Regions from separate parts of the Homo sapiens genome. Here region 1 is linked to region 2. Evidence: fine-mapped expression QTL. A gene starts in region 2. The other region holds a variant in brackets. All regions are shown on one strand. Distances are from middle to middle.

What was found. PIP is the estimated chance that this variant, and not a neighbour inherited with it, causes the effect.
Region 1: its variant is the best candidate, but not a certain one, in a credible set for the expression of IGFL1 in unexposed skin (GTEx, PIP 0.63).

Annotation. Positions count from the first base shown.
Region 1 is chr19:46,248,896-46,253,285 of GRCh38, reverse strand. It overlaps LOC124904728 (a long non-coding RNA gene), which reads left to right and starts at 3,079. Exons shown (of 2, transcript XR_007067273.1): 1 at 3,079-3,141. The variant T/C (reference allele first, on the strand shown) is at 2,349.
Region 2 is chr19:46,227,310-46,231,699 of GRCh38, reverse strand. IGFL1 (IGF like family member 1) reads right to left here and starts at 1,958. Exons shown (of 4, transcript NM_198541.2): 1 at 1,901-1,958; 2 at 1,539-1,592; 3 at 1,183-1,426; 4 at 457-879. The coding sequence starts at 1,925. The coding sequence ends at 870. RefSeq lists an enhancer at 1,411-2,610.

The sequences.
Region 1 (4,390 bases), 22 kb before region 2:
TGCTAAATTGATCATATGATGGGTCATAAAGAAAGTCTCAGCTTCCAAAGGATGATTATTATTAAAAGTAGGTTTTTGAGCTGGGTGCTATGGCAGATGCCTATAATCCCAGATACTCAGGAGGCTGATGTGGGAGGATCACTTGAGCCTGAGAGTTCAAGTCTAACCTGGGCAACATAGTGATACCTCATCTCTAAAGAAATGTTCTCTGGGACTCCCAGCTTCCAGTCAAGCATGTAAGAGGCTTGGAACTCATCACTGCATCTTAACAGAAAGTGAATACTGAACAAAGAGAAAATTAACAATTCTTACATCCATTAGAGGAGTGGGATCACAGAGCAAACCACTGCCCTTAAGATTTCGAGAGACAGGCAGGTGGATACAGAGAATCAAAACTACTGCAACAGAAACCCATGACCAGAAACCCCTGTGGGAACCAGTACCAGGACAGGAAAACATGAAGTCTAATGAATGAATTCCTGGAGGCTCACGGCGGAGCAGTCTGAGAATTAAAAACTCCAGGGGGCCCAGTCTAAGGGGAGCCTCTGCATTTTTCTAAGAGTTTTACCTCCAGGAACCCTATCAGGTTCTCACAGTGAATATGGGAGAAAAATCTCCTTCATGGTCTGGCATGAAGTGGGAAGGGGGAAAGTAACCGCTGTGAAACACACCAGAGTATTCTGTTCTTCTTAACAAGCTCTGCCATTAAGAGAAAGCATTTTACCAGAATCTAAATTATTAGGGTTTTATCAGAGCCTAAATGACCTGGAGGAAGAGAGTATTATTTTTATACAGGACAGTAAACAAGTATTCTTTGCTCTAAAGGGAAACCTTACCTCTGTCTTCCAAGGCAGTACACTACACAAACATCCTTGAAAAGAGTGTGGAACAAAAGGACAGTCAATGCCTCACTGCCAGGCCAGCAAAAAAGCAAGAGATCCATGGGGAATTGTCTCTGACACTAACAAACCAATATTTTTGCAAAGTAAATAAACACATGAGCAAGGTGATAATAGTGTGCTGGAAAACGCTGCCCTGCTGCAGTGGTGACTGTGATAGTCCCGGGTGTCTGGGAAGACACGCCAGGATCACAGAGTGGGGCCTGGTTTTAGAAGAATGCAAATCTGGTCATGAGTTTCACTGCTTAAAATTATTGAGTGATGGCCAGTCGCGGTGGCTCACACCTGTAATCCCAGCACTTTGGGAGGCCGAAGGAGGGTGGATCACCTGAGGTTGGGAGTTCAAGACCAGCCTGATCAACATGGAGAAACTCCATCTCTACTAAAAATACAAAAAATAAAAATTAAAAAAAATTAGCTGGGTGTGGTGGTGCATGTCTGTAATCCCGGCTACTTGGGAGACTGACGCAGGAGAATTGCTTGAGCCTTGGAGGCAGAGGTTGTGATAAGCCGAGATGGCGCCATTGCACTCCAGCCTGGGCAACAAGAGCAAAACTCTGTCTCAAAAAAAAAAAAAAGAAAAGAAAAGAAAAGAAAAAACCAAAAAAATTATTGAACGACTCCCCACCACCGCTAGGATGAAACCCAGGCTCCCAGCTTGTCCCACAAGGCCCTTTGCTACCTGGGCCTGCCTTCCCCTCCAGCACCTTCTCTACCTACACCCACGGCGTCCCTTTTTCATCCAACCAAAGAGTCACTCCTTGAAACAGTGCAAACAGGCTTCCACAGCATGACTCACCTACCAGCACCTGCTCCCAGTAACTTAGTTCCCTTCAGGGTTTCTCTTTCTCCCAACCTTCCCACCCTGCTTCCAACTTCCCTCACTGATAGAGAATTAAGGACTCACTCTATGCATCCCATAGGACTCACGCTTACCTCTCTCATTGTCTTGTCTTGCCATTGGTCACTCTCCTGGGTATTTGCCCAACCCAAATTCACCCTAAATTATTAGAGATATGCATGCAAAGCATAAAACTTTCAGCACATGGTTTTTGAAAATTAAAAATAAAAATCTCCTTCCCCTCCTTTTACCTCCCCCCTCATTTGCTCGTTTGCACTCCTCAGAGACCAATGCTGTTAGCAGTTTCTGCCTTCGGTACCTTTGAAGTTTCCTATCATACTCTCATAATTCTCTCTCGTGACTTTAGGGACCCAGGTTTACCATTACTAGTTGTGGCATTTCAAAACGTACTTAACCTCTCTGAGCTACAGTTTCCTCTTTAAGCACAATGAAATGAGGACGTATAAGCATCCAGTAAAGTCAACGTGTTTGTAAATATCATGTAAACTGGGAACCCCACACATATGTTGGGTCATAAAGAAAGTCTCAGCTTGCAGAGGATGAACATTATTAAAAGTAGGTTTTTGAGCCGGTGCTATGGCACATGC[T/C]TATAATCCCAGATACTCAGGAGGCTGATGTGGGAGGATCACTTGAGCCCAAGAGTTCAAGTCTAACCTGGGCAACATAGTGAGACCTCATCTCTAAAGAAATGTTCTCTGGGACTTCCAGTTTCCAGTCAAGCATGTAAGAAACTTGGAACTCATCACTCCATCTTAACAGAAAGTGAATACTGAACAAAGAAACAATTAACACTTCTTCTTATATCCATTAGAGGAGTGGGGTCACAGGGCAAACCACTGCCCTAAGATTTGTTGACACAGGCAGGTGGATACAGAGAATCAAAACTACTGCAACAGAAACCCATGACCAGAAACCCCTGTGGGAACCAGTACCAGGATAGGAAAACATGAAGTCTAACGAATGAATTCCTGGAGGCTCAGGGTGGAGCAATCTGAGAATTAAAAATTCCAGGGGGCCCAGTCTAAGGGGAGCCTCTGCACTTTTCTAAGAGTTTTACCTCCAGGAACCCTATGAGGTTCTCACAGTGAATACCGGAGAAAATGTCCTTCATGCCCTGAGTTTTGAGCTGTCTGAGAACATGACAGCCCTGGAACAGGTCCAGTAGCATCCTACTAATGTGTCAATGCTTTTATTTTGTTATGCTTTCTGTGGCTTTTCATGCCCCACCCTTTTTAAGAAACCACTCCTTCTGCACACCTCCCTAAATATGGGTAAGTTCATACCCTATAATAATCTCCTGTGTAAAGTCACTGACCCATTTCCACTGCTGCTCTCTCATCTGCTGCTCTGAAGCCTAAACCATGGTGCCCAGAATCTTCGGTAAGTCATCCCCAGCCCCAAGCTGAGCTAATGCCTAATGTTATCCCTAAGGTACCTCTGAACTTCAAACTTAATTTTCTCTTTTCTGTTTAATTCTCGGTTTCCCACCTCATAATCACCCGTGTCCTCTCTGACTGCATTGCAATCTCTCTCCCCACCTGCAAATTCCAGAAGCTTAACCCTTTCCAGAGCCCTCCCTGCATTTCCTCACCTGCCAAGCCCAGTCCCCAGGACCTACATCCAGAGTCAGTCCCAAAATCCACTGTGAGCTGTTACAGCAACCAAAGAAACTCAGAGACATCATCTTGTGCCCCAATGATCATGATCCGGTGACCCCAGAAACATTGTCATTCTCCTTCTGCTCTCAGCTGATCTTTGTTTTTGAACTCCTGGGCTCAGACTCAGAAGGGACCACAGATGAGAAGGGGTGTGGTGAGCGGAGGGAGAAGAGAGGAGGGAGGATTATAGCACTGTGGATAGGGTTGGGGGCTCCCAGAGGTCCCCTGTCAGCTCATCAGCTCTGACTCTTCCAGATATTGGACTGTGGTTGTGCCAGTTGACACTCCAGAGTGGAGACCAGATCTGCAATCTCTTGGGGCTGTAATAAGGGGATCATCCTGTCCTTGAACAAGACCCAGCTCTGTGGTCCTAACTGCACTTCTGGCCCTGCTTCCAGCACTGCTGACTGGAGCCCCTGGGCTCTCAGCACCAGGCAGTAGTGAGGCTCCATGTCCCAGGAGTGAGGCCTGACTACCCCAGGAGTGTGCTCAAGTAAGGGCAGCCCAGGCGGTGGACAGAGTTTTGTTGTGTGTATTCCATCAAGGTGAGCAATGCCTGCTGTGTTCACTAGCTTCTTTTTGCGCAACCATCAATCTCTCTCTCTCTCTCTCTCCCCCTCCACTGCCCCACTCTCCTCTCTTCCCCTCCCTGTCTTTTCCCTCCTCTCCTTCCTTCTCTTCCTCTCTCAAGTTGAAAGAAGAGTAGCTCAGTCATCTTCCAGAATTGCTTTTTAGCTCCGAGTCACCTGGCTCCACAGCCCCCGACCACTGTATGCCTACTTAGCTGTTCCTCCCCTTCCCCTCTACCCTCACCCTTGGCAACTACCAGTCGGCTTTCCATCTGTATGGATTTACCTATCTGGGACATTTCATATAAATGGAATCACACCATATGTGAACTTTTGTGTCACCTTCTTTTTTTTTACTTTGTTTATTGTTTTCATTGTTACAATTTCTACAATTGTATCCCC
Region 2 (4,390 bases):
TCTCCCCATAGCCAGTTGGAGAAAGAACCTCCGTTCTTTCCCAGTCTGTCTGCATCTCCTTAACGTACATCAAGAACAAACAGCCGGGTCCTGTTCTGTCCCAGAACTGGTGGGAGAGGGAGTGCCTCTCCGAAGCCCTCTCGCGATCCCCACCTCCTCCCCACCCCACCTGGGCTGCTCCCGATGTTGTGACTGGGTTCAGGGAGCCATGGGGTGGTGGAGGCTGGTGTAGGAGGGTGGCCCCTGTCCCAGGTGCGGCCAGGGTCCTAGTCACCGAGCACAAATAACAAAATAATAAATTTAAAAATAAATGGAAAAAGAGAAAATAAGTGTGTGCACGAACAGAACAAATGGAAAGGCCCAGATGCCTCAGGGTGACAGAGAGAAGGGGCCCCACGTCACCCTCTGTGACCCCTTTCAACAGTCCAAGCTCTCTAATTCATGAATTCTACAGCATTCATTTATAAAGTACATAAATTTATTATGATCCTGTGCTTTGCTCCTGGATAGAAGAGAACTTGAGATGATGGAAAATCTCACAGAAGGGTGAAGGGTTCCCCAGCCAGCCTTGGGGTGGTGCCGGGTTGATGTTGGCCATAGGGGTCATCAGGAGGGTTCAGAGTCCCTGGGCCCCCATCAGCACACGCATCTCATGCTGTCCAGAATTCTAGAAGGGGACCTGTGGGCCTCCTCAGGGCAGCTGCAGGGTGGGCCTCAGACAGGTCACAGAATGAAGTGGGCAGTTGAGTGTGTGTTTCTCTGGCCCCCAAACAGCCACTCAGCATCCCAGATCTCAGGTAACACCAGCCTCTTTCTCCAGGCCCACCCAGGAAGGAGAATCCAGGAGTCATCGTTCCCCTGATGTTCCATTAGCTGACACTGGAGATAGTGACAGAGAGAGACACTGAGCGGGACAGAGATGGCCAGAGATGGGGGCGAGACTGAACATGGGCAGAAATGAGGACAGGAGAGCCAGGAGGAGAGGACAGCGGGGTAGAGAGAGTGAGATTCTGAGAGGGAAATAAAAATGGATGGAGACACAGGTGTAGGGAAAGGGAGAGGTGGATTGAATAGAAGCAGGGGGCAGAGACAGGGAGACAAGGAGAATGGGGGCTCCACCCAGGGCAGAACAGGCATGCAGCTACCCTGCACCCACAATCCCACGGAGGGGACAGGACTCACCTGCGACAAAGCCTGTCATCCGAGGTCCGGGCTGAGTCGCAGTTCTGGTTTATCAGCTTCACCATGAAGGTCCAGGGGCAGCACTGCTCAAAGCAGACTCTGAAGGTGCAGTTTCCACACGTCTGGGTCCTGGCCAAGGGCACGACGGCATCATCATAGCAACAGTGCTGCAGGGGGTCGTAGAACTTGTCCCCACATCTCTTGTGTGGCTGGCACAGCATCAGGTAAGGAGTCATGGGGGCCACTGGAGGAGACAGAGCTGGTGAGATCCAGGAGGTAGTGGCAGGTGGGTCCCAGCCTGGGGTCCCCTGGAAGGTGTACCCCTCCTCCAGCTTCCCAAACACTCCTGGGCTCACCTGGGGCTCCGTGTGAGCAGAGGAGCCTGGAGATGCAGAAAATGGCAAAGACAGCTGTGGGAAAGGGAAAGGGAAGATGGGGTGAGTGGACAGCCACAGATATGACTGGCACTGACATTTAGAAGAAGACTGGGTGGAACCAGGGCTCGGTATGGCTTTGAGCAGCTCAGGGACTGAAACAGGGCTGTGGATGGGGCTGATCTGGGCACTATGGATGGGGAATTGCTGTGAGCAATTCACGCCTGGAGATTTGGCTGGGCATGGGAACAGGGATGAGGTGTAGTTTGGGGTAGGGAGAGAGCCCTGGTGGTGGCTGAGATTGGAGATGGGCTCAGGTGGGAATGGGGTCCTGTCCTCCTTACCTACGATGCAGCCTCGGGGAGCCATGGCTCTGGGTGGTTGCAGTGGAGTGAGGAGGGGATCAGCAGATCTCAGCCACTCCTTTTATCCCATATTTCTAGTGGAGCTGGTGATGTCATGGCATTTCCTGCCCTCCTGCAAGTCCTGCAGAGACAGGCTGGGTCCTTGGGCAGGAGAGGTGCCAGGCAGGGTACGTGTCATTGTAGCTTTGATCTCACCTTTGTAATCAGGAGAGAAGCGGTACACCCTCCACCTTCTCTGTGCTATGTGCCCCAATCGTCCCCCACACTGAGTCCTCTGGAAAATAGGAAGGTTCAGGATGCTCCTGGCATTAACACTCTCCGACACTCACATGTCCACACAGCGATTCCACAGGATCCTACTGAGCTATGACTTTCCTCAGTTTCCTTGGGACATTGCTAACCCATGACATCATTTCAAAGGGTCCCATTAGGTCCCAACCTCACAACCGAAACACATGGTCAAGAATCCAGTAACTTCTCAGTCACCTGCAGCTCATGGCATTCAGGTGGGAGAGACTGTGTGACTCAGGCACCTGACTTTCACAGGTTTGGAAGGTGGGAGTGGAGCTGGCGGGACCCCTGGGACTCAACACTCCTCTGGGGGCTCTTCATCTCCTTCTCTGTCTCATTAATGGTCATTTACCCAGGACAGGTCCACTTGGGAGCCTACATGTCCCAGGCTTCGTGTCAGACACCAGTGATGCAGTGCTGAGTAGAAAACGCAAAGTCAGTGTCTTCGTGACGTTCATGACAGTGAGAGGAGAGAGAGAGAGAGAGAAGGTAGGAGAATAAAACTCCTGATTTTGGTTATTGTCGTTCTTGTGTTTGGTGTCATTATCACTGTGAAGTTCTGGTGGAGAAATTCCACATCCCCCCCTGAGATTCTCAAAGGTGTTTTTCCTTAATGTGCTTTTTCAGAGGGTTGGGTTGTGATTTTCCCTGAGAAGAGCCATCTTGGGGTCAGGATGTGAGGACAGAGGGGAAGGAGCTGTTTTGGGTCAGTTCTGTGCCCCCCTACCCCTGCCCAGCTTCTGCAGGAATTCCTCCGCTCAAGCTCACAGGCCACACATGGCATGGACAAGCCGTTCTCCTCCGGGCCAGGCAAGGTGACCTGTCACCCTCTAGGCACCATGGCTGGCTCCTAGCAGGGCATGGATGTGGTTAGATTTGTGTGTGTGGAAGATCCTGCATCTGTGTTCCTGGGGAGCACGGATAGGGGCTTCTCTCTGGAGGCAGGAGACACAGGAAGAGGCTGCAGAGAAATGACTTCAATAAATACCAGAGTGCTCAGCACCCACCTTCTCCCTCGACAGAGCAGACCCTGCTTCCAGCACCATCTCCCTGTCTGCTCCCTTGGCCTCTGTTCCTTGCTGCTGTGGGGTACAGCAGTGTTTTCTAGGACACAGATTAGGATGTGCTAGTAGCATGGAAAATCAATTTACTTGGGCATAAACAATGTTATTTTTAAGTGAAGAAATGGGTTAGAAAATGGGACAGTGTGCATTCAACAGAATGCTGTGCTCAACTGTTTATGACACTTTAAAAAAAATTATTTATTTTTTTGAGATGAAGCCTTGTTCAGTTGCCCAGGCTGGAGTGCAGTTGCACGATCTTGGCTCACTGCAACCTCTGCCTGCCAGGTTCAAGTGATTCTCCTGCCTCAGTCTCTGAGTAGCTGGGATTACAGATGCCCGCCAACACACCCGGCTAATTTGTGTATTCTCCATAGAGATGGGGTTTTACCGTATTTGCCAGGCTGGTCTTGAACTTCTGACCGCAAGTGATCTGCTCACCTCAGCCTCCCAAAGTGCTGTGATTACAGGTGTGAGCCACTGCGCCCAGCCTGTTTAGGACCCTCTTATTGGGACTGTGTATATTCCAAGTAATGATAGAATATTATTATATTGTTCTATCGTATGATATTATTATATGATAGCATAGCACATATCTAGAACTAGATATCTAGTTTCTGGAGGGAGTCACAGCCAAATGGTGAGGACACTTGGGAGCACAGAAGCCTCCAGGATCATCTCCTTCTTCTCTAAGAGCCACTGACATGTCTCCCCTTTGATGTCTTCCATAAAGGGGTAGAGTTCTCAGGTCCTTGGTTCCAGGCATTTTCTGGGAGGCTGCAGTGGAGCCCTGCACTGGTCTTACTGTCTCTACCAAGAAGAGGCAAGGCTGCCTGCATATGAGCCAGAGTGAGAGAGTGGAGCACCTTCCCCAGGGCAGGGGCAAGGTGGGCACCTCTGAGGAGGGAGGAGTCCAGCTGCTCCTTCCTGGCCTCTCAGAGCAGCTGAGTCAATGCAGCATCTGGAAGGTAGAGGGAGATTTTAGCAGATCATGGAGGCCTCGGAGGCTGGGACAGTGTGAGGCCAGTGGGCACCCGTCCAGGGCTCCCTGGACACTAAGAGCCCCCAATTAGACATGAGGAGGCTTTAGGGTCAGTCAGCCCTGCGTTCAAACCCT